Regions from separate parts of the Homo sapiens genome. Here all the other regions are linked to region 1. Evidence: fine-mapped expression QTL. A gene starts in region 1. Each other region holds a variant in brackets. All regions are shown on one strand. Distances are between the middles of the regions. Region 1 holds the start of ADTRP (androgen dependent TFPI regulating protein). Region 2 overlaps ADTRP (androgen dependent TFPI regulating protein). Region 3 holds the start of LOC124901258 (a long non-coding RNA gene).

The links.
Region 2: its variant is fine-mapped to the expression of ADTRP in whole blood (TOPMed, PIP above 0.99).
Region 3: its variant is fine-mapped to the expression of ADTRP in whole blood (TOPMed, PIP above 0.99).

What each region holds. Positions count from the first base shown.
Region 1 is chr6:11,773,797-11,785,222 of GRCh38, forward strand. ADTRP (androgen dependent TFPI regulating protein) reads right to left here and starts at 5,007. Exons shown (of 6, transcript NM_032744.4): 1 at 4,811-5,007. The coding sequence starts at 4,963.
Region 2 is chr6:11,709,808-11,721,403 of GRCh38, forward strand. It overlaps ADTRP (androgen dependent TFPI regulating protein), which reads right to left. Exons shown (of 6, transcript NM_032744.4): 6 at 3,716-4,705. The coding sequence ends at 4,671. It overlaps LOC340184 (a long non-coding RNA gene), which reads left to right. Exons shown (of 3, transcript XR_001743973.2): 3 at 276-592. It overlaps LOC124900221 (small nucleolar RNA SNORA67), which reads left to right and starts at 12; the gene lies at 12-153. RefSeq lists enhancers at 1,833-1,882, 4,569-4,718. The variant TCTC/T (reference allele first, on the strand shown) is at 5,390.
Region 3 is chr6:11,724,920-11,734,163 of GRCh38, forward strand. All of the region lies in intron 4 of ADTRP (androgen dependent TFPI regulating protein), which reads right to left. LOC124901258 (a long non-coding RNA gene) reads left to right here and starts at 2,246. Exons shown (of 2, transcript XR_007059452.1): 1 at 2,246-2,495; 2 at 5,139-6,328. RefSeq lists enhancers at 4,615-4,784, 7,169-7,468, 7,749-7,838 and a cis regulatory region at 4,700. The variant G/T (reference allele first, on the strand shown) is at 3,691.

The DNA of each region.
Region 1 (11,426 bases):
TTCAGAAGCCAGGTCTTCAATCACTCATCTCTATACTGCGTCCAAAGAACCTACCAAAATGCTGTCATAGTTACTTGCTCAATAATTTATAGCTGCTTTATTTTGGGTGCTGGTGGTGACTATCACATAGTTCTCTCAGTCCTTACCCTTTCAGCTATTGAAGTGCATCTTTGTGAGGCAGAAATAGTTAAGTGTATTTCTGACTCCACGTTGCTGAAGAGTGCCATAGGGGTTGGGTGCGGTGGCTCACGCCTGTAATCCCAGCACTTTGGGAGGCCAAGGCAGGCGGATCACAAGGTCAGGAGTTTGAGACCAACCTGGCCAACATGGTGCAACCCCATCTCTACTAAAAATACAAAAAAAATTAGCCAGGCATGGTGGTGCATGCTGTAGTCCCAGCTACTGAGGAGGCTGAGGCAGGAGAATTACCTGAACCCAGGAGGCAGAGGTTGCAGTGAGCCAAGATTGTGCCACTGCACTCCAGCCTGGGGGAACAGAGAGAGATTCCATCTCAAAAATAAATAAATAAATAAATAAATAAATAGTGCCATAGATTATTACTTAAGGTTGGTCCCCCAAGTGTTGAAGTGGGTGCCATACTATAAATTCAACCCCATCTTCTCACTGTTCACAGGCTGCCTTGAAGTTTAGACCCATAGAGGCCTCCCAGCTCCTCTGTTCCCCCAGCCCCAGGCCAGCAACCCCAAGGACTTATGTGGTATTGCCACTGTTGTCATCATGAGAAGTTGAGGGTGATGACGACGGAGCTGCCTGGGGCTTGGGCAACTTATGAAAAGGGAGGGAAAGGTCATGCTTCTGTTGTTGAAGGGGGTGTCAGGGGCGTGGGGAGGGAGGGGCCCACTCAGAATCTCCCCTGGAGATCCCAGTTATGTGGCCCCACCTCTAACAATGTTTCAGAAGGAAGCTTATCTTTAAAAAGAGGAAACCCTAATAAACTGAATGAATTCTGCGAGCCAAGCTGTGGCTGCTGAGCCTTGCCCTAAACCCCCTAGCTCATATTCTCTGGGATTAGGGACAGTCCCTGGATGGAAATGGGGTGGACAGAGAGCAAGGGACATAGCATTTGTGGAGGACTCAGGCACTGGATGATCTGAGCCAACCTAAGCTGCTTGAGGACACCCATGGCACTGCCTTGGTCTCACGCCTAGCCTCTGGGGTTCCCCATTCTGCATGGCTGTCTGCTGGAGCCTGCAGACTCTACCACCAGGACGGCCTGGTGCCTGCGGGCAGCTACAGCAGGGAGAGCAGTGGCTCGACAGTGGTCCTTCTCCAGCTGGGAAGATGGGGCATGCAGCTCGGGGAGGGAGAAATAGTAGCCATGAAGGGGAAGGGGGTGGATGACTCCTGCTGGCCTCCACCCCGCAACAACCTAGGTGCTCAGTGAGGAGACTGATGTTCTACTAAGTCACCCTCCTGCATCACCTTCTCTACCCAGAGAAGTTCACCATCACCTCCCCATCTTCTCTCCCCACTGTCCACTGCCTAACACCCTGCTGACGCCATTCTGAGCGCTTCCCACCTGTCAGATCATTTCTCCCCCATGGCTACCCTATGGTTAGGTACTATTTTTATTTCTATTTGACAGACGTGGAAATGAAAGACACAAAGAAGTGCCTAGCCCAGGGTCTCGGGGGCAGTAAGCAGTGGGACTGAGGTACCATCCCAGAGATCGCAATTGTAACCATTGTGAAATACCACCTCTCCCTCCCAGCAGGGAATCAGTGGCCCCTTCACTGAGGTCAGTTTACTCTCTTATTAGGCAGAGACTCCCATCTGTCCTCTCCTACCTTCACTCTCCTTAGTCAGAAATGGGTCACCCTGACCAATTCTCAATGGCACCTTAGCCACTACCACCAACCCCAGGGGAGTAGCTCAGTGCAACTCGTGTCTGTCTCCTGTCTCCTGTCTGTCTCCCCTTCCAGTCCCCTGGGATAGCTTCAAGGGGAACTGGGGCAATGCTCACAGTGCCAACTGGCACAAAAGGGGGCTTTGCTCTTACAAAGGGGACAAAAATGATACTCAGCCAATTAGAAATTCAAGCTGTTTACGAGGAGGGGTGTAAATTTTCTGGTAATCAGGACTGGATACTAACTTCCCCAAGGTGAGGTAAAATAAATATAAGAATGTGAGCGTAAGTTGTGAGACCTTTATGACTTAATAAACACAACCACCAATTAATTAGTCATGAATGAACACTAATTAATCATTAGGAGACACAACCATTAATCAGCCCATGAATCTCAAGAGCTAGACATTTGCAGGTCCAATATTTCACCTTAAGCAACATATTCGAAATCTACATTAAATCGATCCTCTGAAATACACTCAACCCATCTTCACCAGTTGGGAAGCATTTCATTAGGTCACACTTTCAAGATGACTCCTAATGGAGCTCAGAAAGAAAATCACCACAGGCAAGCCCCTCTCAGCTTATTTACGAGGGCCAGAAGATACCAGAAGAGAGGGACTGCTTGAGGATGCAGAAAGGCTGAGGTCACGTCAACGTACCAAGTCGCAGCTTTTTAATATCTGGGTATCCTGTGCCAGCCACTGTGCTGAATTCAAGGTAGAAATATAGACAGTTAGGGTTGGCAAGGACCTAAGATTAAAAAAAACTTCTGTTTTGGAGCCAAAGTTTGATTGGAATGTTAAGACTCACATGGCAGGGAGAGAGGGAATTAGAAAACAATACTACATATAAATCAGCAGAGACTGAGAGATGCTGTGAAAATCAGAGAAAGGAAAAGGAAATTTGGACTGGAGTTGGTCAGCAAGGATTTGGGAGGAGTATATGTGATTCCCAATGTTCTATGAAAGAAGCAATGTGGTGGAGAGAGGTAAGTAGGCCTTTCTTCTAAGGATAGAGAGAACACCGGGCAGAGAAGTGACAGCAGGAAGCCCAAGGACCAATACTAGTGAGACGCAGTCCTTACTGCAGAAGAGACCAGCCTCCCAGGGAGAGGGAACCCGAAAGGCTGGTTGGGCAGGTGAGCTCTTGAATCGGGAGTTTGACATTGGGTCCATGAGGCAGGAGGGAGCCACTGTGGTTTCCTGAGCGGCAGGCCACACTTTTAGATCCAGGTCATGGTATTAAAAAACAAACCAAAACCAGTGCTTTGAGAAGATTAATTTGGAATCTAAGTGGCTGGATTGGACCATGAATGGACAGTAAAGAGATGATATGGTCATCCAGGTAGGCTTAATATAAGCCTGGAATGAGAGAGACAGTAGTAAGGTTGAAGAAGAAAGGATGAACTTAGTAAAAGGAAAAACTAATAGGATTTGGTAGCTGATCAATCAGGGAAGCAAAATTGGGATTAACACTAGGAAATGATAGTATCATTGACAAGATAAGAGACTTTTCTCACTCTTGGAAAATAAGGGCTCTTGGAAATGTAGGTGAGCTAGAATTAAAAAGTCAGGATCAGTTGTGTGTGTGTGTGTGTGTGTATACAAAGAGGTAAGGGAGCTAGTTAATGAGTGTGGTGATAAATCTATTCTTAGCCACACATAGTGTGAGGTAGGACATTCATACTGGAATTGGATTTTATTAGAAAGTCAGTCCTAACTACAGACACACTTCCCTTTTAGTGGACTGTTTTTCATAGAAAGCCAATAGAGACACAAACCTTAGGGGTGTGTGTGTATGCGCGTGTGTGTGTGTGGTTTTTTGTTGTTGTTGTTTACTGTGGCACTGCTAGTTATACAAAAAACATTTTTTGTTTTGTTTCTGTTTGTTTTTCTCATAAAATTCCATGATTGAAACAAGTAGTCACCTTGAAGTTTTCAAAGACACTAGAGCTGTGTTCAGGGTTCCAATTTTTCAGGCCCAAATCAAGAGGCCACTAACCAACCAGTGAGGAGGAAGCAGCCACTTTGGGCCTCTTTGATTTTAACTCTCTCCATTTCCACGTCCTTAGCATTTCAGAGTGTCACAGTTTCTGACCACATACATTCTCCGCTTGTCAAATGAGGATTACAATTCTGAAAACAGATGTTTATGTGGCACCCAAGATTTTAGTCAAAAACCTCAAATATTAATTCACATCCCCAAATGATTCCCCATTATTAGCTTTTAACTTTAAAAGTATTTTTTTAAGCTATTCCTCAAAGTATTTTTCATAATCTGCTTTTCTCCCATTCATTCACACTTCATCAGAATGCAGTCAGCCAGGTTAGGAAGACAAGAAAGGAGTAAGTCATAAGATTGGTTTTTAAATAGTTGAAAATGTGTATTTGCCATTCGGTTGGGTGATTTGTCCTTTAAGATGGAGCCTGAACCTATAAAAAATTGAGGTGGGAGCTGAACATGGCAAAATGTGTTTGCTTTTCTTAGATAAATCTGTTAGTCTGTGTGTGCTGTAAAATGGCATTATTCCTTCATTGGAAATTACACTTCCTACACACCATACGCCACTCTGCCTTCTCTTCACAGACTTCCCCAAGCAAAGTTCAAAATGCCTCCTGCATTTGTAGTTAATCCCATGGTGAAACCATTAGCATGGTCCCCTCTTTGAGCTCATCTGAAAAGAGCTCCAAGATGAGATTTTTTTTTTCAAGAGAGCATTTAACAATGAGCCAGCATAGAAATGTTAACTATAGATAATTTCCAAATTGGGTTTATCAGAGCAAATTGTTAAGTAAACAAAAAACCCAAAACTCACAAAACGGTGAAGAAGGAAGACAAATAACAAAATTGTGTATTTAATAAAATCCAAAGATGATATGTGTGGCAGCACTGATATTCTAGAGAAATGGATCGGTTCCTGGTACGGACATATGGACTTACCAGATTAAGCAGCGTCATATATTTCCACCTTGCACCATTTGCCAAGATTTTGGGTTTCACCTCGTCTTTTCCTTCCTGTGAGATGTAATAATTGAGGAAAGTATACCAGCTCAGAACAAGGAAGTGGTATATGCATGTAGAAGTCTTCGTCATGGCGAGTGCTGACCGGGGCACCGTGAATGTCTTGAGTACTTTCTGGCGTCCTTCTGTGGGTCACAGCCTAAGTCCAACAGCAGGCCGGAGAGCTACAAACCACACCCCTCTGGGACTGAGAGTTCCAACACAGGCTGAATTTGGTTCTCTTTTAAGCTCCTTTCCTGATAAACTTCAGAGGCAGGATTACTGCTGGTTTTCAGATGCCTGCATTTAGATAATGATAGATAATCTGTAGATTTGCATAAAATACAACATGTGGGCTTTGAGAAGGGCAGGTAGCAATGCAAGAGCTGTACATTGTACTGTTTCACTAGGGCACTGGGGCAGGGGCATGGTTAAATGAAGTAAGCATGAAATACTAGGAAAATCTAGCGAAATACTTCCATGGCTGTAGTCTCTTTTCTTTTCATTTGCATATAACAAGGAAGTTGCAACCTTATCTCTTGAGAAAAGGAGGAGCAGGTTGATAAACCAGATCATGGGTGTGCTTAGGGCATGAACAGTAGAAAGGAAAAGTGTGTTGTAATTTTGCTCCTGAGGTCTCTGAGATTCTAGAAAGTCTGCAACAACCTTTGATCCTCCAGGGAGCAGCTCCAATGGTTTCTTTTCTTTTTTTTTTCACTTTTGTAACTATACCCTAGAGAACCAAGAGTAACCCAGGGCTGTCCTAGACACTCCATTTGCATAGGCATTTCTGTGCCCTGGGAGGGAAGAAGCAGCACAGGAGACCATCCTTACTATGGCCATGACCCCAAAATACCTGACTTTAGACATTGCTGGGAGAGGGTGAGAGTCCCCGCTCTGCCATGAATAGGATGAGACGTGGCTGGGCTAGGCAGCATGCCGGACTAGGCTCTGACTCAGGTTCCACAGAAGGGAACTGAGGAAGAACTAGAAGTGGATGCCTTGTGACATCGCCAGCTTGTTTCCCTGGGCAACTGACTCCGAGGGGTGAGCAAATCCCTCAGAGAAATGCTCCTGACACAGTTATGTAAGTCTGTAATTGGTGCTTTTCAATGACTTAACCAGGGCTTAAAAGTACTAGCAGAAAGAACTGTAGGCTGGACAAGGAGGACAAACCATAAACAAACCCACCTCCTAAGAGTCAACAGACTCCCAATATCAGGATTGGGAGATGGGAGGAGAGCAAACCTGAGCCCGCCATGGAGTTCTGCATTGTAACCATGTTTTTTTTTTTTTTTTTTTTTTTCATCTGTTGGGGCTGCTATAACAACATACTGTAAACTGGGAAGCTTGGAAACAACAGAAATTTATTTCTCAGTTCTGGAGGCTGGAAGTCCAACATCAAGATGCTGACAGAGTGCCTGGTGTTTAATGTGGGTCGGTTTCCTGGTTCATAAATAGTGCCTTCTGGCTGAGTCCTCATGTGGTAGAAGGGGCAAACAAGCTCCCTGAGGCCTGTTTTATAAGGTCACTAATCCCATTCATGGAGATGCTGCCCTCATGACCTAATCACCTCGGAAAGCTCCCCTCTCCTAATGCCATCACCCTGGGAGTTAAGATTTCAACATAGGAATTTGCAGGGAACACAAACATAGACCATAGCAAACCATTCTCAAAGGAAGGGGTGATCTGGGAAATGGGTACATAAAACTCTGTACAAAACTCCACAGCCTGGGCTAAATTGCAAATAATAACAGAAGCTAATACTTTTATAGTACTTACTGTTTGCTAAACATTGTTCCAGTTGCTTTACACATATTAGCTGATTAGCACTCTAAATAACACTATGAGGTAAGTACTATTACGAATTAAGTACATTTTCAGATGAGGAAATTGAAGCCCGATCTGCTAAAAGGATGTGTTCAACACTTTGTAAGAGGCAGAGCTGCCGTCTGAACTCAGTGTGATGGTTAATATTGAGTGTCAACTTGATTGGTTCGAAGGATGCAAAGTATTGCTGCTGGGTGTGTCTGTGAGGGTGTTGCCAAAGGAGATTAACATTTGAGTCAGTGGATTGGGAGAAGCAAACCCACCCTCAGTCTGGGTAGGCACCATCTAATCAGCTGCCAGCGTGGCTAGGATAAAGCAGGCAGAGGAACGTGGAAGGACTAGACTTGCTGAGTCTTCCGGACTTCATCTTTCTCCCATGCTCTCAGGATGCTTCCTGCCCTCGAACATCGGACTGCAAGTTCTTCAGCTTTTGGACTCCTAGATGTATACCAATGGTTTGCCAGGGACTTTCGGGCCTTTGGCCACAGACTGAAGGCTGCACTGTTGGCTTCTCTAATTTTGAGGTTTTGAGACTCGGACTGATCCACCACTGGCTTTCTTGCTCCTCAACTTGTAGACGGCCTGTTGTTGTGATTGTGTGTCACTTCTTAATAAATTCCCCTTCTTATATACATACATCCTATTAGTTCTGTCCCTCTAGAGAACCCTAATACAACCAGTGTACCTGCCTACAAAGGAACAATGTTGCTCTGCACACTCTCAGACTCCCACTTTGATATTTCTCCTCTCCCTACTGAGTGCCCCTTTTTTTTTTTTTGAGATGGAGTCTCGCTCTGTCGCCCAGGCTGGAGTGCAGTGGCGCGATCTCGGCTCACTGCAAGCTCCGCCTCCCGGGTTCACGCCATTCTCCTGCCTCAGCCTCCCGAGTAGCTGGGACTACAGGCGCCTGCCACCACGCCCGGCTAATTTTTTTTGTATTTTTAGTAGAGACGGGGTTTCACCGTGTTAGCCAGGATGGTCTCGATCTCCTGACTTCGTGATCCGCCCATCTCGGCCTCCCAAAGTGCTGGGATTACAGGCGTGAGCCACCGAGCCCGGCCGAGTCCCTTTTATTCTTCTCTCCTCTCATCAGAAAATTATCTCAGAAAAGGATCAATATGTTTTGAAACTTGGTGCACATATGAATGAATGAATGTCTCCAAGGGTGTTTTCATTTTAGACACCATTGTTGATTTAGAGGTTTTATTCCTTTATACAAAAAAAAATCTCAAGTCTAAGTCTGCAGATGGGTAAGGATTGACGCAAAGGTAGGAAAGGAGGGGAAGACAAAGACCCAAATCTCTGAGATGTGTGTGTCCAAACCTGGACACTGGCCTTTCACCACCTAGATGGTTTTTTTCTCTACGTTAGCCTCATTGCCCACAGATGGGGCCTCTCATAAATATTGATAAAATTATTTAAATTTATTTGTAAGAGTTTTAGTGTTTTACATTGGGATCCAATGAATTGTTAGCATTTTAATAAATAATGACATTAATATATAAGGATTTAATAACATGTAATATCATTTTAATACATATTAATAATTAATAAAATGATATTTTAATAAATAACATGTATATGTATATAAGGATTTAATAATTACATGTAATATATGTATATAAGGATTACATTATGAGTTAAGGATTATGAATTAAGAAATAGTTTTATTTCTTAAGAAATATTTTAATATTTTAAGAAATAAAACTATTTCTTAATTCAACATCTGCATTTTCTTATAAACTTTTCACAAAATTGTTGCCAATGAAAAATCTACATTGCAACCATATTCACATCATAATTTGTGTTCCTGGTTGAATAACCAGATCCATTTTCATGAAGTAGCCTGAACATCTGTTCCCCACCATGAGACCAGGTGGAGCTTTGGAGAGCAATGAATGTCACCTCTTAGTTGCACGTTATAAACTAATACATACTAAGCGTGCTGTTTGTCTGCCTTTTCCTTTCTCCAAGTATCTGAGGGCTTCACGTCATATCCAGGAGAAGTGGGAAGGAATTGTTCAAAACTTTTATTATTTTACACAGGAAATTTTAAACATTTAAAAATAAGCATATTTCATACTTTGATTTGGATACTACACAGGCCACTTGGTTACTAAGAGTGACTTTCTTTGAAACTCTCTACCCCCCTGGGAGTCCGCAACATGATTCTTTAATTTCACAAATACTTATTAAGCAACAGCTATCTGCTAGGTCCTGGGGATTCCCCGAGGAAGAAGAGCGATGCAAACCCTGCCCTCATGGAGCTTATATTTTAGCAGGAAAGATGAACATTAAGCAACAACAAAAACAAGTGTTAATTTATAACTATGGCAACTTCTGTGAAGGACAAACACAGCAGACTTATTAGAGGGGATGGCAGTATCAGACCTGGTGTGGGTAGGGCGTCAGGGAAGCTAGCCCTAAGGAAGCCACGTATGAGCAAGGCTTATTCTCCCAACATGCTCTTACTATCCTTCTCAGTCTGTTTAATGAGCTCCTCTTCCTCCACCAGCTCCTTCTGTGTTGGCATTCCCCAGAGAGCTGGTCCAGCTTACCGTCCGTCTCCCAACACATACTCACCCTAGTGATTTTATCCATGATCATAATTTCTACCACTGCCTTCCAGTTTGTGACCACAAATTATATACCTCTGGTCCAGGCCCTCTCCCTATCCCCACCAAGCTTCAAACACATCTTTGACTACCTGTTGGAATCTCCTGAAGGAGACAGACACGCCTCAAACTCCATACGTCTAAAACGAGCTCACTGACTTCCGCCAAACCAGGCTTTTCTTCTCTAGTCTCTGTCCTGTGACCATGGCCTCACCATCGACCTGGGAGCTTCCTGTGTCCTCCCGCTTTTTTACTCTTCAAATCCAGTTAACCACCAAATCCTGCCAAGTTCATTTCTTACATCAGGGTCAAATCAGTCCCTTTCTTTCCATCCCTTCTACAACTGCCCTCGTTCAAGTGGCCTCCATCTCTTGCCACCACCATAGCAACCAGCAACCTAGCTGGTTTTCCTGAATCTAGTTTGATGCCCCAACGCTGTTTTTCACAAGGTCAGTGAGTGATTCTCTCTGAAATGCCACATCCCCCACCAGCTCATGTCGTTTTACTACATCAGCATCACCCACAGCATTACATCCAAGTTTCATAGCTTTTAATAACCTGCCCACTTCCCACTGGCTCTCTCCATCCTCGTGTGGCATCCCACATTGGATGTCACTCCAACAACACTGCATTGACAGAGCTTTTCACCCACACCTGGCTATGTCACATACCGGCACCTTTACTCCTACTGTCTCCTCTCCCTGATGCCTCCTCTCAACATATCTTTGACTGGTTACGTCATAACCCTCATTTAAAATGCAGCTCAGCAGCTTCCTTTTCCAGGAACCCTTCCTGGATGGCCACCACAACCTGGCCATCTTAAACAGCTCCCTCCTGTCTTCTTTAACCTGCTATGCATCCCTGCATGTTGCATAATGATTAGGAATTAGTCTTTTTTGTACGTCATTATCTCCTAGGGTTCACATATGATGTGTTTGAATTCCCAGAGCTTAGCATAGTGCTGGACACACAGTAAGTACCTAATAAACATCTGCTGACTAAGAAAACAAATAACCCAATTTAAAAAATGGGAAAAAGACCCGAATAGACATCAAAAGATGACATACAAATGGCCAACAGATATATAAAAAATGTTCAACATCACTAAACCTCAGGGAAATGCAAACTAAAACCACAATGAGATATCGCCTTACACCTGTCAGAATGGATGTTATCCAAAAAAAAAAAAAGAAAGAAAGAAAGAAAGAAAAAAGAAAACACGTGTTGGCAAAGATGTGGAGAAAAGAAAACTCTGATATACTGATGGTGGGAAATAAATTAGCACAGATATTATGGAAAACGGTATGAAATTTCCTCAGTAAATTAAAAATAGAACTATAATATCATCCAGCAATCCCACGACTGGGTATATATCCAAAGGAAAATGAATCAGTATGTCAAAGAGACACGTGCACTCCCACAGTCATTGCAACATTCTTATTTACAATAGCCATGACAGGGACTCACCCTAAGTGTTCATCGATGGATAAATGAATGAAGAAAGTATGGTACGGATACACAGTGGAATAACGCTTAGTCTTCAGACAGAAGAAACTTCTATTTGTGACAACACAGGTGAACCTGGAGGGTATTACGTTAAGTGAAATAGGCCAGGCACAGAAAGACAAATACTCCTTGACCTCATTATATGTGCAGTCTAAAAAAGCAGAGAGTAGAATGGAGGTCACCACGGGCCTGGGGCGGAGGTGGGAGTGGGGGTTGGGGAAAGTTGGTCAAAGGATATAAAATTTCAGTTAGACAGGAAGAATAAGTGTAAGAGGTTTATTGTACAACATGGTGACTATAATTAGTAATAATGTATTGTATGCTTGAAAATTGCTAACAGAGTAGATTTTAAGTATTCTTGGCGAGGCATGGTGGTTCACACCTATAATCTCAGCACTTTGAGAGGCTGAGGTGGGAAGATCACTTGAACCCAGGAGCTTGAGACCAGCCTGGGCAGCATAGCAAGACCCCGTCTCTACTAAAAACACAAAAATTATGTTTTTGTGATGTGCACCTGTAGTCCCAGCAACTTGGGAGGCTGAGGTGGGAGGATTGCTTGAGTGTGGGAGGTGGAGGTTGCAGTGAGCCAGCATCACACCACTGCA
Region 2 (11,596 bases), 64 kb before region 1:
AAACTATTTTTATCCAAGGTGAGTCTCTCTCCAAGGGGCTGACTAGTGCCTCTCTTAGGACAGTAGCAAGTTGGAATAAAATCTGGCATGCCTAAGGTCTTTAAGGAACAGGGGATGCTTACTTCTTTTGCGTTCCTCTGGCGGCCTACATAGCATACTTAAGCTCCTTCTGGATAGACTGTGTCCTCTTATTCACATGCTGAAGTTGTTATATATTTTTAAACAAATAAAAAGTGAATAATACATTTTTCTAAAAAGTAACTGATTTTCTCTAGGTTCCATACAGATAGCCAGCCATGGGAGTCAGAATTTGAACTCAGATCTGGTCTGGTTCTGAAGCCTCTCTTCTTTCCAGCTGTGAGACAAAGGAGCAAATATGAGAAGCACCTTTTGCTCACTTCTGCTTGCCAGCAGAATTTCACAAAAGCCCTGGACTGTGAAGATGTTTGGAAAGATGCTTTGAAGACAAAACCTTTAACAGGGTTAGTGTTTATGCCTCTGTAATCTACAACCGGATGCGCTCTTACACCCAAGCCTTGATGGGATTCTGCTGCGACGGAAATTCTGAGCAAATTTGATGTGATTGTGCAGGTACTGAACCTCCACTTCCTGTCTGTAAGCAGTGGGCTGAAATCCTGGGCTGGAGCAGTCTCATAGGATCTGACAGGCTGTTGCCAGGCTGTAGGCCTTGGTCTGTAGTCCTCAGTAAGACTTCTGAATACAACTAACTTTAATTCTTTAAAAGCTTGACTGTTTTCTTTAGTCGGCATGGCATTCCATACCATTCCAGAAACAGAAGCCAGGAGGATACGTGAAGGAGAGAGCAATGGCATAGTGTGTGAAGCTGATTAGCTGTTAACTAGCAGAACTGAGAGAAGGCAGCCGGCCAAATGCCCCGGAGGGGCAAGGAAAAGCTTTTTCAGAGAGTTGGGAAGTGGCACTCCAGTGAGGTCGGAAGCCATGAAGGTTGACTTATTTATTCCACAGTAGCTACAAGAAGAGGGGTCTTTCTAGGGAGTGTGACCAGTTTAAGCAAAGGCTTGGGAGGAGGAATAATAACGTGCTGGAAGTGGGAAAGGGGACCTGGTTAAGGGGCTGAAAGTTATTCCTTGTGGATCACCTTCTCATCACACGCTCTTTGACCTCATTGTAGTTCAATGGAGGGAAAGAGAGTCAAAAGCAGGAGGGAAGTTTGTTTCTAAGCGGACAGGGGCTCAGCAAACCCAGTCTTCCCCGCAGTCTTACCTGGAGCCATTGCCTGGGGAAGAGGGTGTTCAGGCCACAGTATCCCAAGGCTGGGGGCACCTTTGCTCAGAAGCCCCCTGTGGTGCTGCTCCTCAAGAGCCTCCTGGGAGGAAGGGCCAGGGAGCCAGGCGGTTCTCCCTTCCCCTTCTGGAATCCTGGCCAGTTTCCATGTACATAACCCAGCTTAATCCATAGAAACAGGAGCTGCAAGGCATGTTCTTTCTCTTTTTTTCCTCTCCAAGACACGGAAACCTTTATTTTCTCCCTACATCACAAACCGGTACTGTTAAATAATATTGGATAATTGCACCTGTCGTACTCCCCATATTGTGCTGGGGAAAAATAATTGCTGGTTTTCTGCTTTGCCGTTTAGCTGTGACTCCGTCATTTGACTCGGAGCATGTCATTTTCTCCCATTTTAGACCGTGTACAGTCAAACCCTGTGAAAGGACTCACAGATAGCGGCCCTGCGTGTATGAGTGGGCGCGGGCCTCATTCAGCAACGATTTCTAATTTATACAGCATTGAATATCCACAGCTATAAATAAACAGTTCTGACTGGCTTTGCTGCCTACTCAAATGCTTTATTAAAAAAAAAAAAGTCACCAGCAACTGCATGAGAAAGGAAAACAAGAATGTCTGGATGTGGATTCTGGCTTCTGAATCCTGGGCTTGGGAGTGGAGACGCCCCACCTTGGGAGCGGCTCAGTGCTCAGCCCCTCCAGTTTTTGGAAGGCCTGGCCTCCTCGCTCCTCGCTCAGCCCCTCACGCTCCCCACGTGTGGGTGCAATGTGTTTGGGGATTACAGTATATGAAACTGGCTTCCTGTTATGACAAGTATTGCAAGTGAGTAGGTGTGGAGGAGCTGAAAATAGCTTAAGAAATGTAGGACCCTTCTGGGGAGAGAATGGGGTTAAGGCATTGTTTAGGCAACAAGACGAATCTTCTACCCAAATTCAAAATTGGTTTCAAATGTGAGACAGCAACACTGGAACAGAAGCATGAGTATAGGCCAGTCCCTGGGGTAGTGGTGGCAGCGTCCTTCCTCCTCCTGTAACGGGGACAGTTTCCACCAATTTGGGATCTCTTGACCACCTTCTTTTGTCCAGCTCTGCAAGATGTGGACACATTTCTGTTTTGTTTTTTAAATAAAGTTTTTGGATGACCCGGTACTGCTTTGCTCTGTAAGAAAGAGGAAGGAAAGTGGGCTCAGGAGTCAACTATCCATGTGACCTTGGACTTGTCATTTCCCTGCTCTGAACGCAGAGGTGTGCTGGAGCCAGTTTGCACAACAGGCTCTCGAGGACTAAGTGGTTGTCCACATCTCTTCCCAACTGTACATTCAGCAACGTGCTGCCAGCTTGAAAAAGGCCATGGGGAGAGTGTTTACACCATGGAAATGAGCACACATTATCAATCAGAGCCTGACATCTTTTCCCCAGAGAGCTGGTTGTTAAACCTTTCCCAGCACACCACCCTCAGAAACTCAGTTTGCTCATTTGTAAAATGAGAACGTAACTCATCTCCTACTTACGAAGTTTCCGTGGGCTAGAATAAGTGGGAGTGGTGATGAATTACTTGACACTACACAAATATTGCTGGTATCATCATGTGGTTGCTATAGTTGTCATTTTCTATTAAGGGCCTAACATAGTGCTATGCAATCTGCAAATACCATATACCTTTTAGCAAATGTTTAATCAGTGTGTTATTGTTTTGTTGTGTATCTTTTCTTAAGCTACTGCAGCACCGAGCATGCCCTTGTGTGCTTAGGCATGTGCTCAATGGGAAATTGTTCCGAGACATTTCTAGTGTTGGAAGAGATATTGCACAATGGCCAGGCATGCTGCAATCAAGGTTTAATTTGGTCCTAGGGCCAGTAAAGCCACAAATAGAAATTTGCAGGCTCATCCCCACCAAGAGCTTACTGTGACTGAGAGTTACGCAGCCCGAGTCACCTCTGGGGTGTGGAACATTTGGGTGATCCCCCGAGGGCTTCACGTTTGGGGAATTTCCACTGTGGCAACTGTTTCTGAGCTCCTGCTGAGACCAGGTGCTTGGAGCAGTGAAGAGGCAGCAGTAGATGTGGGGAAAGAGGTGGTATTCCCAGCTCCAACTGGAAAAGACTTGAGGCCCATATTAACAGAACAGTAGAAAAAGAAGTGGGAATTAAGCAGGTTTCTTGGTGCCTGCCCTGGTCTTCCCTTAGGCTGCCTTCCCACCTGAGATATTCTGTCCTCTTCTGTAACCCTTCAAGACCACTCTTGCTCATTTTTACCAGATTTCTCCTACATAATGTTAGGTTGGGAAGTCCAAGTCCAATTTCCTTCAGTGTCCACACCCCAACCCATATGAGCCTAGTGACATACTAGTAGACTCAAATATGTCTACCCACCAATAGCCATTTGCCATTTGTGTTCTTTAAAAAATGTGCCCACAAATAAAGGCCAGGAAAATAACACTAGGAAAATCACAGCAGGGATCATGAATCCTTGTTAAGCATCTGGAAATCAGCTTTGTTAAACCACACACTAATTCAGAAAAGTGCTTTGTAGCAAAGCAATCTCAACAGCCCTTATAATTCTATCACTTCCCATCCAGATTCTTCTGCAAGCAAAATTTATTACTATACCATTTATTTGATGAATTAATCAATGTTCAAATGGAAGAGGTTTTGACAATGTCACTATGTTTGATGTTTATACCTGCCCTGAATGCTTGCTCAGAAGAGAAACAGATTTCCCAGTATTTTTTATAACTTACTTTCCCATTGTCTTCAATTAATTTGCTATTATCCCAAGTAGACAGACAACTTCAGTAGTAGCCATCTCCCTACATTTTTAGATCACTGAAAAAAATGGATGAGCAACCCATGAAAATAACTAGCTTACTGAAATGCTTGTCTTTTAAAGAAAGTTGGGATTATTTAAAAAAAAAAAAATGGCCCAGGACCAGTAGCTAGGAGATCTGGGAGAGAGAAGTCATTGCCTTGGTTCTGACACTAAGTAACCCTTTTGCCTTTTGCAGGTAACTTCTCATCTAGGTCCTCAGCATCCTTCTCTGTAAACTGAAGAGTTTAAATGACTCTAAGTTCCTCTCTCTCTCTCTAGATGTTCTCTAACACCAAGTTTATGTGAGTTTCTTTGGCCAGATTTTAACCAGAGACCATCCTCCACGAAGGTCAAAGATAATTAATTCTGAGATAGCAGGAGTTGTTTTTGGCATGTGCAGTCAACCTTTCAAAAAACCAAGAGTTCTCAAGTTAAGCTACCTTCACGAACCTCTTATTAAATTTAAGTATCACTCTCTGTCCCTCCTACTTTGCTATGTTCCTCCACCACCTCCCTCCACCAGAAAAAAAAAAAAAAGATGAGAAAAATCTCTTGTGTTTTCTTCTTTCTTGGTTCTTGGAAAATGGTGTGCAATTACTTCCTCTTCTTCCGTGGCTGCCTCATGTCACCTGTACAAACAAGAACAGAGACAGACCTCAGGCTTCAGGCTTTCCCTAATGGGTATTTTTGTTGTGGGTAGAGATTCACTCTGACTTGGGGCAGTGGAAAGTTGAACACACTTTTCCCAAGGTGACAAGATGCAGTTTAAGGAGTTATGAAAAAACAGCTGCCACGATGACAGGGGCAGAGAACAACTCTGCCGTCCTCCCTCAGTGCTGGGTTCACAGTTAGCCAGGCACCCACGATGCTGTTTGCCTTCAGGTACTCTGCATAGCTAAGAGGAAGCATATTGCTGTGACTCTGAGTGAGTGTCTGCAGGCTACACACAATCCATCAGCAAACTTTGAGACTTTGCAGATGGAGATGAAGAGACCACATCAAATTAGAGAGGAAATAGAAGGGTGGATGTTCAACTAATTGGGGTCATTCTGTGACCTCTTAGCAAATGAATTCATCAGCCTGGTGGAAAAGTACTGGCATATGGATTAGGTTTGAGTAAGCTCATTAGAGGGGCATTATTCTACTGAAATTATAGCATTAGATTTGTAGAATGACTTCTATTCAGCCAACAAGTTGGTACTCCATATTTAATGATCATAAATCTTTGTGTAAGCTCTGCAATTTGTGAAATTTCATTAGCTCATTATCCTTTGTGCTTGTTGCCAAATACTGTCAATGCTACTTTAAAAACT[TCTC/T]CTCCATTCCAGAACTTACAGCCCTGGTAGTTCTGGCTTGGTATTCCTGCAGCAAATCCATGCTCCTAATTCCATGATTCACCCTTCAAACCCTGCCACCTTCATCAATTCTATCCTTAACAGTAAACACTAGATATCTTATACTCATTCCATTCTGCTGGAACTCCACTTCTTAGAGGCTATCATGACTGGTGACTTGAAGTCCTGTTTGTGGCCCCTTAATTACACTGATTTCCTAGGATGGCCACCTCTTGATCATGCAGTCCTCATGGCTATCCTTGTATTCATCTCATGCAAAATTTTCAAGATCAAAACTCTGTCTTCTTCGTCTGCTCCTCATCAATCTAGACTACCCCAGTCACTTCAGCCGAGGCTTATTGTTTATCAAGCTTTATGGATTTCACGTTGTTTTCATTGGTGTGTCTACTTCTTTCTCTTCTGTTTTTCCCTTTTTTTTTTTTTTTTTTTTTTGAGACAAGGTCTTTGCCCAGGCTGGAATACGGTGGCACAATCTCAGCTCACTGCGGCCTTGAGCTCCTGGGCTGAAGTCCTCCAACCTCAGTCTCCTGACTAGTTGGCACTAGAGGTGCACACCACCATGCCCAGCTTTTTTTTTTTTTTTTTTTTTTTTTTTTTTTTTGCTTTTTTATTAGATACAGGGTCTCACTATGTTGCTCAGGATGATCTTGAACTCCTGGCCTCACCACAAGGGATCCTCCCATCTCAGCCTCCCAAAGTGCTAGGATTACAGGCAAGAGCCACCACCCTTGGCCTTATTTTCCATTTTTGATGTGAATTCTCTCCTCCCTAGTTAGGGCTTCTCTACATTAGGTCTATAAGTACAAGCACAGTACCTCCTTTTTCTGTAGAGTATACTCTGGGCCTTTAATGAATTCTTTTTCAATTAAATAACCAGCTCACATACAAGAGGGACAATATAAACTTGGTCAATATAAACTTCTCAAATTTCTACCCCGCAGTCACTCTGAGGATTCCTAAAACTTTCTTTTATCCATGTTGTTTACCAATCCCCAAGCCCTCAAGCCTAACTGTAATAATAACCTCAGTCCTTCCACCCCAGGTGTTGAGGACTGAAGACTCCCTTCTCCATTTAAGAAATGCAACAGAACACGAAGGTTTGGAGAAAAGCCACCCAGGAGCAGACATGGTGGTATGAAGCTCTGCTGGGGGAGGACAGCAGGTGGTTCCCTCCATTGGATTAGAGTCCTCTGTCCAAAACCAAGTAGCTAGGAGGAACACTCAGAAATGCCCACATACCCATCCACATGCTAGAGAAGGCACTGTTCCCAAATGGGTCTCTGTGGTGCTCCCAAAGTCATTTTATTCTGTAGGGACTCATGTGGCGTGAACGTTGCAAAAATCATGTTTCTTTTTGCTTCTAGCAGCTGGGAATGGCAAGCGGGTCTTAGTCTTGAATTCTCACAGAGCTAAGCAGTTTGTAGGCTTCTTTAAGTCTTCAAAATTTATCTCTGACCATGCTTTTTTTCTTTTTCTTTTTCTTTTTTTTTTTTTGAGACAGGGTCTTCCTCTGTCACCCAGGCTGGAAGGCAGTGGTGTGATCTTGGCTCACTGCAACCTCTGCCTCCCAGATTCAAGTGTTTCTCCCACCTCTCAGCCTCCCGAGTAGCTGGGACTACAGGTGTGCGCCACCACACGTAGCTTTTTTTTTTTTTTTTTGTATTTTTAGTAGAGATGGGGTTTCACCATGTAGGCCAGGCTTCTCTTGAACTCCTGAGCTCAAGTGATCCACCCGCCTCGGCCTCCCAAAGTGCTGGGATTACAGGTGTGAGCCACCGCACCCAGCCTTCTGACCATGTTTCTATAACGCATAGCTGGAAATAAGGAAACTGTTGACTTAATAATAGATCATATATCTTACCCAAACCAAATTCACAAAATGGATTTTAAGTTGTAATTGGAAAATTATGTTTATTATAAATATTTTCTTGATTGAGAAGCATTTTTCCCAGTAGAAAGTATCCTAGTTGGCAGATAGGAAGTTAGATTCACCCCGACTTGTTTTATTCCTTTAACTGCTGTCAGATAGTAGCAAGGGCTAGAAATATTTTTATAGCCCTGATATTTCACCTGATATTCTTGACCAGTTGGTGCTTGGCTGGTGACTTCCAATCGGGCCACTGGAAGCAGATTCCAACAGATTCTAGCCTCCATCTTTGCAAGATCTGAACAGAAACTGCAGGCATGGCCAAGAAATTATTGTTTCAATCAACATCACCATAGATACCATATATAATTATATGCCTTATTATTCCAATAGTTAGAAATCAGGATAAATAAAAACATAGTATTCTCAAAGATTTACACCTATGTATCTACAACCACAAAAATGAATGCCAGGCATTGAAAATTTGAAGAACATTTGCCTAGTTTCAGTGGGCTGACTCAGAAAAGGGCAAGAAAATTGATGGTTGGGGGGATAGCAGGTGTTAGAGAAATGAGATCTGAGCACTGATAGTCCTGTGTTCACACTGCAGAAGTCCAGGGAGGACAGGGAACTGAGGGCTGGCTGGAGAAACTCCTGTGGGAAAGAGGCTGAGGAAGAGGCAGGGAGGGTAATCCACAGCGGGCTCTTTTTGAGTTTAGGGAGATGAAGTTAGGACAAGAAAGGCAAAATGGAGATAAATTTTTGCCATTGACTAAATGCTGCCCCAGTGGGACCATGCTTTAGAAGTACCTGTGGAGTCATCGCATGATAAAATTCTTTTGCTATGGAATAAGCAGAGTTAATAAGACAAACCTCATCTAATTCCTTCATGAATAAAACAAGGAGGTGGATTAGATGGCCTCTAGGCAGCTTTCATCAAGAAAATCTGCCTTTTAAAAAACCTGGTTTATGGCAAATAATATTAAAAGAAAGTTTCCATGTCATTCTGTCCAGGACACACTCCCAGCGCCACTTGGCCAGGCTGGAATTTTCAGCTTACAGTCTGTCCTTAGGATGAGAAGGACCTATGGTCTTAGGGGCCCTGACAAAGGACAGCCTGACTCCTGGCATGTGTCCATCAAGGGGCATAGGGAGAGGGGTCACAGGCCCTGGATAAGCTGACTGTCTCTCCAACCACCCCCACATAGCAGAGGCCCTGCCATTTGGGCCTGGAGGTGTTTAGCCCCTTTCTGTGCCCCATATCTCTTGTGGGATGATTTTCTCTTCCTGAGGAGCTTGTGTGCTGGTGTCAGCATCCTTGTGTGCTATCAATCATCAAAGAAAAAAAAGAAAATTAAGCACATAAGGGGCAGAGAAGGGAGCCTTTGATAGGATGTCCTGATTGCCTCTTGCCCCCAGTCAATGTGGAAGAGAACCTGCCCTGGGCATGCCTGGGTGTTCAGTCATGGTCATGGTGAGCCAAGCTCTCAATGTCTTGCCAGAGACAGCTTCCCCCATCTGCTTCTATCATGGTTTGAAGTTAACATTCCATCTAACTCCTCCCAAAAAGTAGAAATTGAATCTTTCTTGGGGGATGACTGGTCCCAGTAACTGACTCTGTGCTTGCCCAACCCTCTGCCTCATGACACAGAAAGGCTAGCCCAGGGCAGGGAGTGAGATGGTGACAGGTCAGGCCAGGTGGCCCTGAGGAACCTCTTGTGAGCTTTTTGAGCCTCAGTGCATTCTTGAAGGACCTTCCTGTGGGCCATGACAACACTTGCCTCCTTGACGCTCAAAGCCAGTTCCCTGCAACTGAGTGCCCTGGGAGGACCTCATCATACACTTTCCAATTTAACATGTGATTCCCAGTATGGTTTCTTATTGCTGTCCTTCTTGCTCTCTTGTCCATATTCACCCACTGATGTGGCACAGGAGGAGGGAGAAAGTGAGTAGATGTTCAGCTATTGTGACCATCACCACCAACACCCTTCTCAGTCCAGCAGCCCACTCAGGAGAGCACCACACTGCACAAGGATGCCGTAGACAGAATTATCCACATTGGGAGGAGTCCAGGGTCCTGAGATGTAATAGAGCCTTGTCCTCAGACCAGCAGCATCAGTATGTCTGGAGTATGCGTTAGAAGGGCAGAATCTCAAACTGCACCCCAGATCCACTAAATCAGAATCCACACTTTAACAAGATCTCCGGGTTCCCCAAGATCCTCATTTTGATGAGCATCAGAGGCCTATACAGGTTTGAGAAGCGTTGCTCTGTAACAGCGGTTCCGGATCCCGATTGCAAGTTAAAATAACTGGGAAGCTTTAAAAAATACCCATGTCGAGTCACCATCTCTAGAGATATGGATCTAATTGGTCTAAGGCAGGCCTGGGAATTATTATTTTTTAAACTTCCCTAGTGTTTCTGTGATGTAAAAAGCCAAGGTGGAGAACTACTGCTAGAGAGCTACTGTCACATTGAATGGGTCTTGACTGATACTTCGCCTGATGTTCTTGACCGCTTGGTGCTTGGCTGGTGACTTCAAATTGGGCCACTGGAAGCAGAGATTCCAGTTGTGTCTCAGGATTTCAGAAGCAGAGATTCCAACAGATTCTAGCCTCCAATAGCCTGACCTCCTATTTGCTGTAAGTACCTGAGGACGTGCATCATCTCTGTCCGTCTGCTATCGGGTAGCTGTTACCTTTAATCACTTGCAGCTGGGAAACTGGTAATTTATACATCAACTCAAAGGGGAGAATGAGGGAGAATAAGATGACCAGCAGCAGTGACTAACTGTATGCCAGGTCCTGCTGTAGGCGCTAGATCCTCAGCAAGTCATCTGAGGTTCTCCGTGAGCCCAGGAGGAGGCCACTAGCATTATCTCCACTAGGACAAGAGAAAGCTGGGGCACAGAGACCTTCAGTGTCTCACTCAGTGTCACAGGTACAAGTGGCAGGGCCAAGATAGAGACTGAGGCAGTTTGGCACCAGAACTTTTCTTCTAACCACAGCCCCCGACTGCCTCCCTAAAGCATTCATTTGAATTTCTCCTGTCATCAAAGGGGGCTCAGGCTGTGGAAGGAGGGAAAACATAGGCTTAGCTCTGGCTTTGGACAGAATACGTGGCTATCTATAAGTTTCCAGAACTGAAGATCTGGAGAAAGGCTCACTAGTAGGGGAACCAGTCAACTGAGTGCCCAAGCCTAGACAATATTAAACCTTATGAATACTGGCACAGCAGGAATAGACAGGGATCATCTCAGGCCACCTGGGCTTGGTGGTCACTCTACTTAGAGGCTGTCTGATCACTGAGGAATTGAAGTGCATTGCCACAGAATACATGGTTGGTTTGCGGCCAGGTGAGGGATATACCCTTTTCTTTTTTTTTGAGATGGAGTCTTGCTCAGTCACCCAGGCTGGAGTGCAGTGGCGCGATCTCGGCTCACTGCAAGCTCCGCCTCCTGGTTTCATGCCATTCTCCTGCCTCAGCCTCCCGCGTAGCTGGGACTACAGGCGCCCGCCACCACACCCGGCTAATTTTTTGTATTTTTAGTAGAGACGGGGTTTCACTGTGTTAGCCAGGATGGTCTCGATCTACCGTGGCTTTCTTGATTCCTATTCCAGTGCTCTTTCCCCTGTTTAATACTTTCTGCCCTAACATGCATGTCTTCAACAACTCTCTAACTGGTACGCCTTGTCATCACCCTCCTATACTCCTTAAACTCCCTGCCCAATACTCTACAGCCATTAGAGTCACTCCTTATCTGCTGTCTCCAGAACACCTTTGCAAAAAGTTGTACTTTACACCTAGGAAAAAAGGCCCTTGGATATTCTATTGTCTGCACTGATTGAGGCAACGAGAAAGCTAATGGAAATAGTGGATCTTGAGATGAACAAGACATACCCCTAATTCGTAAGACACCCGAGGTCTAGTGGAAAAACAAATCCCTAAAGCAGTAGTAAAACCGCAGTCATGATAAAATGGTAAGTCTGGTGACTGGGAGGTAAAGGGGGAAGCACTGGGAAGGGCATGAAGTCCAACCTGGGCTGACCAGGGAAGGCTTCCTGGAAGAGGCGAGTGTTGAAATGCATGAGTATGAACCAGGCAAAGACTGGAGGAGACACAGAATCCCGTGGACGTAAGAAACAACATCAACGTGGAGGGAAAACCAGCAGTTTGGTGCCACTGGGGCACACATATAGAAGAGCAAAAGCCAAAGCAGGGACTGGGTCACAGAGGCCCTTGTGTGTCATTCCAAGGGTGTGGACTTTCTTCAGTCAATTGGGGGAAGCCTTAGAAAG
Region 3 (9,244 bases), 50 kb before region 1:
AAGCCTTCTTTGAAGCTGCTGATCTCTTGTAGCAATTAGGATAGGCCAGGTTATGCTTCAAAAACAATATTTAAATTTGAATATCCCACGTTGTCAAAGGAATTCAGATGGAAGAATGAAATTCTGTGCTTAAACTTTCAGAAACCCAAGGGTGATCTCTGTCATTTCAAATACTTGAAGTTTGTTAAATGGTTTGTGGAAGAGTCAAGGGCTATATTCAGGACCGGGAGTAGGGTGAAGCAAGAGAGGCCCTAGGGTGTAAAACTTAAGGGATCATCTCTGCAACAAAGGACACAATAAACAGTGTGAAAAGGCAATCCATGGAATGGGAAACAATATTTCTAATCATATCTCTAATAAGGGGTTAATATCCAAAATATGTAAAATATTCCTGTAACTCAACAATAACAAAAAACCCAAATAACTCAATTAAAAATGGACAAAGGACTTGAATAGACCTTTTACAGAGAAGATACATAAAAGGCCAACAAATGCATGAAAGGATGTTCAACATCACTAATAACTAGAAGAAATGCAAATCAAAATGACAGTGAGATATTGTCTTACACTCATTAGGATGGATACTATATTTTTTTTAAAAAGACAAGATAACAAGTGTTAGTAAGGACATAGAGAAATTGGAACCCTTGTTCATTGTTGGTAGGAATGGAAGATGGTACATCTGCCTTGGAAAACTATATGGTGGTTCTCCCCAAAATTAAAATAGAATTACCATCTGATCCAGCAATTCCACTTCTGGGTACACACCCAAAAGAACTGAAAACATGGCTAACATGGTGAAACCCCATCTCTACTAAATATACAAAAAATTAGCCAGGCGTGGTGGCAGGTGCCTGTAGTCCCAGCTACTTGGGAGGCTGAGGGCAGGAGAATGGCATGAACCTGGGAGGCAGAGCTTGCAGTGATTGGAGATCGCGCCACTGCACTCCAGCCTGGGCGAGAGAATGAGACTCTATCTCAAAAAAAAAAAAAAAAGGAATTGAAAACAGGGATCTGAAGAGATATTTGTACACCCATGTTTATAGCAGCATTATTCACAATAGCCTGAAGGTGGAATCTCCCCAAGTGCCCACTGATAGATGAATGGATAAATAAAATGTGGCTTATACATAGGCATTAAGAAGGAAGAACATTCTGACACATGCTACCACACAGATCAACTTTGAAGACATGGTAAGTGAAATAAACCAGTCGTAAAAGGACAAATACTGTATAATTCCATTTATATGAGAAACCTAGAATGTCAGATTCATAGAGGGAGAAAGTAGAATGGTGCTTGCCATGTGGTTGCGGGAGGAGGCAGCGGGGAATGCTATCTATGGTTTCAATATGGTTTGTTTGTTCGTACCAAAACTCATGTTGAAATTTGGTCCTGCGTGTGTTGGTGTTGGGAGGGGGAGCCTAGTGGGAGGTGTTCGGGTCATGGGGTTGGATCTCCTAAGAATGGTTTGATGCTGTTCTTGTGATAGTAAGCTCTAGAAATGGATTTTTTCTATGAGAATGGGTTGTTATAAATCTAGGGTGCCCCTCAGGTTTTGCCCTTTTCACACGTGTCCATTTCCCCTTTGATCTTCTCCACCACATTGTGAGGCAGCAGTAAGGCCCTTGTCGGCAGCCAGGGCCATGCCCTTGAACTTCTCAGCCTGCAGAATATGAACTAAATAAACCTCTTTTCAATCTCTGATATCCTTTTATAGCAACACAAAATGGACTGAGCCAGGGAGTTATTGTTTAACGGGTAGACTTTCAGTTTGGGAAGATGTAAAAGTTCTGGAGATGGATGGTGGTGATGGATGCACAACAAGGTAAATGTACAAAATGCTACAGAGCTTAAAAATGATCAAAATGGTAAATCACTTAAAATCGTTAAAGTTGTAAATATTGTGTACCTTTTACCACAATTTAAATGTATCTAAGGAGGTGTCAATTTTAGGGTCATATAAATGTAGGGTTGGCATTTAGTTCCTCGCCTGGGCCCTGCTGGTATCACTCTGCTTTCCCAAACTTGTCTGGATGTTCCTCCCAGATTGAGAATGAGGTGACTAGAACAAACAATAATTATCATCATTGTTACTAATATTAGAATTCTTTTTCTTTTTTTAGATGGAGTCTCACTCTGTTGCTCAGGCTGGAGTGCAGTGGTGCAATCTCGGCTCACTGCAAGCTCCGCTTCCTGGGTTCAGCGATTCTCCTGCCTCACCCTCCCGAGTAGCTGGGTTTACAGGCGTGCGCCACCATGCCCAGCTAATTTTTGTATTTTTTGTAAAGACAGGGTTTCACCATGTTGGTCAGGATGGTCTCAAACTCCTGACCTTGTGATCCGCCCACCTCAGCCTCCCAAAGTGCTGGGATTACAAGCATGAGCCACCATGGCCAGCCTAGAGTTCTTTAAGATATGCGTTCCATGGATGCATTACAGGATGCCCACAGTGATTCTTACCTGCATGGCTACTTCTCATGGCAGGACAAAGAAGGTATATGGCATAGAAAATAAACAGTTTCAAGTAGATAGGGCTAGGAGTTTGGAGTCAGTGAGGAGCTCTGAATGTACTCCAAAAAGTTGCATCACTTAGTTCACTTTGTTTACTTTATATAGTTGAAATTAGGGCTTCTGAATTCCCATGCACATTTATGTAAGATAGTCTATAAATAAGGACATCCCCCCAGAGGCTTGGAAAATTTCTGTTTACTTCATGTTTGTTTCCTTCAGCATAAGGCTTGTAAAAGAAAGTTCCCGAGGTAAGCTAATGAATTGTGTACTTTCACAGATAAAGTGTAAGGAAAGTTATAGGTGTGGTACCTGACAGTAGGAAAATTAACAGAGATACAGAGTATGAGGCAAGATGATAGTAATTTACCAAGGGTACTCAGCAGAGAGGCGTGAATGAGGACAGAGTCACACTGTTAGTTGACATCACTTCTTTATGGCTTGCCTGAATATGAGGGGAAGGTGGGAAGAGAGAGGGGAAAGAAGAAGGAAGGAAGGAAGGAAGGACGGAAAGAAGGAAGGAAGGGAGGCAGGGAGGGAGGGAGGTAGGTAGGGAGGGAGGGAGGGAGGGAGGGAGGGAACTTTGCATTCAACATGTCTTCTATTTCAGCCAATGTCAGCCCTCCATTCAATCTTGCCCCCAAGTTTGATCCCATGAAATCATATCTATACTAAACTTCCTTCTAAATGTTTCTTCAGCGCACACATTTCACAATCTTCCTTCAGCCTCCTTCATTCCATTTGGGTTTCTGTCATTGTCTACCAACTAGGCTTTCTTGCTCCTTTCAACCCACTTCCCCTATTGCAAGCCATCAGTAATCCGGTAATCTTCCTAAAAGCGAGCTCTGTCCACAGCCCTCCCCTGCCTGCAGTGAATCCCAGGATCCCAGCTGCTTACCTGGCCTGGCCATGCCCCGCTTCCATCTGGAGATCTGCAGTCCATCCATATTGAACCCCTTTGTTTCTTGAGTGAACTGAGCGCTGCAGTTTCTTGGCTTTCACACCTGCTGTTGTCTTCACTGGGTACACCTCTGACCTTTTTGTTTCCTGGAACCTACTTCTCTTTGCCCTGTGTCTGGCTGAATCTTACTCACGCTTCAAATCTCAGCTTAAAAGTCTATTTCTCTAGAAAAGATTTCCTGAAGCTCTCTCCCCCAACCCTGATTCGGGTAAATGCTTAC[G/T]CCAGGTGCTTCCTCCACCCTGGAACTTACCTTTGTTACTTATTTGATTGTTTTTCTCACTAGCTTGAAAGCTCTGCAGGGGCAGGGACTGTCTCTGTCAGGCACATTTATTTGCCAAGTGCCCAAAATGCAGCAGGTTCTTTGAATTTTGAAATGAATGGCTGTGTTGGGTGGCTCTGTAGGACACTGCTATGGACGGCTCTCAGTCGCCTGACTCACCAAGACCACCACAGGCTCTGGAAATTTGGAAATGTACCCAGTGGCCTTTCAAGTTTTGGTTAATCTCACTTTACTAATACTTTGAAGAGGCCAATGACGTTGCCCCTCAGTTCAAAGAGCAATTTCACATCTTTCTTGAGCCATCTGCTACGTGAACCTCTGTGAGTTGGACTGGGTGGGCACCAAATGGCAGCCAAAAATTAATCTTTTAGGGTCTCCTTATCCTAAATCTTAGAGCATTATAATGGCTGTCAAGAAATTCATAACTTCTGCGTCTTATCAGTAGAGAAATACCGACGTCTGTGGGTGGCAGATAAACAGATAACGGAGTTTTGTGGGCTTTGGGCATATAATTCTTTCTTTCGGTGTTAACCCTCAGGTCACGTCTTTCCAGCCCAGGAGAATAAATCAAACAGAAAGAGTCAGGAGAAACTGCAAGGCTAGAGTGTTAGTCAAATAGTTTACCTAGATGTTGAGGTGTCGGCAGTGATGAGAGTCATTGGGGTGGCAACCTCATCACGGCATTTAGAGCTGTTGCCCAACCCCTCCCTGAGACACCCCCTTCCAGTTTGAAGCCTCTCTGCCTTCAGGGCCCATGGTTTTCTAACTTCCTGCCCTTCTACTACCTGGTAATTCCTTGCTACCTTTGCTGCTCCTTCCCCCTCCTGTCCCTGAGAGGAGGGCCTTTCCCTGGTGTTTGCTTCTTACTTATCTTCCCTCTCTCCTCTCTCTCTTTCCAGCAATCTTGTCACTCCACGAGGGTTCAACTAGCTGCATCTCCTCAGCCCCATCTTTCTTGAGACTGCAGGGTCTGAATTTCTGAATGGAAATTCCTCCAGGCAGGTGATTCTCAATCTTGTCTCAAAATTAGAATTGACTTGAGGGCCTTAAAAATTCCAATGCTGAGGGCATATCCTGAACCAATTAAACCAGAGTATTTTTGAAATGAGACCTAGATATGGGATATTAAACTGACTGTTTTACTTATACCCAAGACGATTACTTTCACAATTCATTTTCATCTATCAATGGAATCACCATTTTTCTTGTCTACTAACTTAAAATTTTTAGAATTATCCTAATTTTTCCTTTTCATTTGTGTGGTACATGTCAATCAATCCATAAAACCTATTCTGTTGTTTCAACAATGTGTCTCAGGCATGTCTCTCATTTCTGATTCTACAGTTTTACTCTCTTCATGCCGTTATTATTTCTGATTTCTGTTACAGGCATTTTGGTTGAATAAGAACTAAGGTTTGAACAGGAAAGATGAGAAGAGCAGGAGATGAGATACCCTCTCCTCTCCTAGTCCTCCACCTCCATCCCTCTTCAGTTTGGATCCTGGCTGGGCTGGACCCCGCATGTTGACAACAAGGATGTGTTGTGTGGCATCTTTTTAATTAATTTTCATATATGAATTTACAGGTAGGGTAAGGATTTCTTCTGTGGAAAATGGTGCTGAGATTCCAATCCCTGCTGAGTTGAGGTTATAAAGCTATGGTTGACCTGGATGATCTCAGTTGAAGGTCATATTTTGGAAACGGTAACAGTGGCTCTGGTAGGGAGTTCACAACATGGTTGGTTCTGAGCAGGACCAACCATGTGTTAGGGAAAATATTTATTCAATAGAAAAATGAATAAAAACCAGAAAGAGAAGAAGAGAATTGCTGATTCTGGAAATGGCAAGGTGGCTGGTCCTGGAACTCAGCTTAGTCCACCCCTTGGCAGTTTTTAATGTATTCTCAGGGTAAGATGTGTACATGTATTTGTAAATGAGGCATGAATTTAAAGAACTGTTACTTCTGGGAACCCAGGAAGCTTTGCTGAGGGATCTTACCCTGGAGAGCACAGTATAAAAGAAAGTAATTCTCTCTCTTGCCTCATAGCAACTACTTTGGGGAAGGGACTTTACAAACATCTGCCCCAAGGCTGGGTGACAGCTGCATATCTGTGCAGTGTTTGTACGGGGCATGCAATACTTTACACACTAGCAGGGACACCTGCAGCATCAGTAGGTTTCTGGTCTACCAAGAGCAGTGTGATGATGCACTCCAGGCCAGCTGGGGTGGTTGCTGTGGCGAGTAACATTGTTAATTCTACCAACACAGGGGGCTGATGGGTAAATGACACTGTTGGCATCAGCAGTGGGCATGGTGTGCTAACCCTTAACACTGTGCCAGGTGGGGATGTTGGACCCAGTGGGGATTACAGTTTTGCTATCTGTGTGTAAGAACAATGCTCAGAACAGTGTGCAGCATGGGTTGTGCAGTGCACGACAGGGGCATGTGTGAGCACTCAGCAGATTATTGGAACTCCTTGGAAAACTGGACCAAGACCTCCAAGGCAGAAGGGTGCTTGGGGATATCACTGGAACTGTGAAATAACCATACATAAAAACTAAGACATTGTGATCAAAGTACATAATGTGCTGGCTAGTTTTTATTTTTATATTGGTTTATATTTTATTTTGTTTCCCATCTCTTGTCACTCCAACTTATTTGAAGCACTATTGTCAAGAATGACATTTTAAAGCATAATTTGCTGGCCAAGTTACAAATACTGCTCACCCTTGCTTCCACTCCAAACAAACAAACAAACAACAGCAACAACAAATGCTCCCATTTTCTATACTATGTCCAACATCCTCTAGTCTGCCATCTGCAAGCCTTCATGAGTGGGTAGTTCCAGGGATATTTCTCATTAGTCTCTTTCACAAACAGGTCCAGCAAAGAGAATTACTGACCCTTGCTCTCACGCTTTCTGCACTCTCCTGGCCTTGGGACTGTGCTCCTTTTGTTTACCTTCTCTCATTTTTTCTAGCTCCAATCCTGCCGGTCCTTCAGGGCTCAGATCCAATGCATGCCTTCCACAGTGCCCTTCCCACACCGCTCAGCTGGATGCAAACTCTTCCTTTTCTGTGGCTCCTTGTGTTTTTTTTATGAGGTTTTACCACTTTCCATCTTCTGCACTTATAATTTGTATGCATGGGTCATCTCCACTTATTAAGGATAAACCCCCTGCAGGCTGAAGCTTGGCCTGATATAACATTGCTTTTCTGGGCAGGACCAACCATGTGTTAGGGAAAATATTTATTCAATAAAAGAAAGAATAAAAACCAGCAGAAGGAACATTTCTATTTTTTTGCTCCTCACCACTGCCTCAGGGAGAACTAGGTGAGGTGTTTTGGGGTAGGAGAGAAGGGAGAAATAAGTGAGCTACCATATTTAAAGGTGACTAATGCTTTCCAAAGGAAATGAAAGCTTTGCAGTCATTACTATTTTGCAAAGCTTTATTTTCCCACTTAGGGGAGAGCTCTTCAATTTTGCAATCTGAAAAATAACTAAAAGCAACCACCACATGTAAGGCGGTCCCCACGGTCTCAGGAACTATTTTTAGGTCATTTGAACATGGTTTCGGCGGTGAAATGCTTCTCCAGCTCAGCTTCAGTGCCGTTTTCCTGACTCATGTTCGTTTCTCACGCTCCCTCTGGCCCGAGCCCATGCTCTTTACCTCATTCGTGTTATGCCATTTCCCCATTTGACTGTCCAAACTGGCACATCTGACAGTGGGCCCATAGCCACTTCCCTAAAACGTCTCCATGGGTGTCTGCAGTTTGTAGAACTTCATGGCCATCTGTGGCTGTGAGGAGCCAGGGGCCCTGGAAACTGCGTAAGGGTGGGGTTGGCAGGCACCAAAGAGTCTGAGCTCCTCTAACCAGGGCGTGAGCAGAAATAGAGATGCTTCCATCAACAGGATCACATCAAACACCCTCCTTTAAGTGTCTATATTTGATTTGTTCTAGCAAAAATGGGGCTTAGTGGACCAAATACCAACTTAGCATTTTTCATGAAGGACGAAATCCCAAACCACCTCAGCTCCCCACTGGGCACTGGGGCTCACCCAGTCACGTTCCTGCTGGTGACAGGTCTCCATCCCTTCCCTCCACTCCCTTCATTACCAGTACTTTAATGTCTAATCCAAGCACATAGAGCTGGGAACAACACGTGAAAGATTTCAAAGTGCAGAGCTAGGTCAAGCTTTGTGCATGCCCATCCATCCAGCATTTAGCTGAATGGTTTTGCACACACTGGGAATTGAACAAATACCTGGCCATGTAAACACAGTGGAAAGACAACTGGATTTGGAGAGAGGAGACCTCAGTTTTAGTTGGCTCAAGTACCAGCTTTGCATCTCTACCCCACCTCTGCCATATGACCATGGGCATGTCATCTACCCTACTGGAGATTTAGTTTTCCAATGCTAAGTCATCTCTAAGTCACCTCCCATTGTTCACACTCTCTGATTTTATTTGTGGATTGACTGATGTTATCATCAGTTGGCTAACATCAACTCCCCTGAGTTACCAGCAATGCCACCAACTGGTCTACCTGTCTTGTTCCTCTTCAGTCTAATGTCCACACTTCAGCCAGAATCATCTTTCTAATCAGCTTTCTTACATAAACCACATCATTTCATTCCTCTGATTATAACACTTTTCTACAGAAAAGCACTTGGTTTAAAAGTCCAAACGCACTAATGTGGATTTACGACCTGGCTTTACCCTGTCCTCCAATTCAGCCATACCCTCAGCTCCTCCAGCCCTTTGCAGATGCTGTTTTTTCTGCCTGAAGGTCTTTTCCATGTCTCTTTTGACCTATTCTTATTCATTCCTTGGGCCTCAGCTTAGACAGTGCTTCCCTTTAAGAAGCCAGTCCTGCACATCTCTCTGTGTGCCCATAGCATCCTGGGCTTATGCCTATTACAGTCCTATCACCCTGTCTCCCACTGTCTGTTATGCTCCTCTTTCCCGGACAGCCTCTAAAGGTAGCAGGTTTCCTGAACTTCACTGTATCCTCCATATTTTAGCACAGTGCCTGGCGCTGGTGAACCACTGAATGGATAACGATGCACTTGTACCTGGCTCCCATCCTGTGGCATTTCTTTCTCCAACATCCTAATTACCTGCATCATGGGGACACCCGCCCAGGTACTGACAAACCAACCTCCTGGCCTCTACTACTCATTTTTATAGCCACTACAATTTTCCCCAATAACAGCAGTGGCCTTAGGTGCTTTTCATCTTCTTCATCCCCAAAAAGGAAAAGAAAAACAAGGGTCAGATATGTGAACTGAAAATCAACTTACAAGTCCTTAGGTAGAAGACATTAGTAAGTAAAAGGTAATAACATATATATGAACTACCAGATTTACACTTGGCAATAAAAGAGTAAGTTAAAGACCACCAAAAAAAATACAGCATACAAATTCATGTGTATAATCAGCTAGATTCCACTTTGCTTCTCTTCAACACATGCAAGAACAACAACAACAAAAT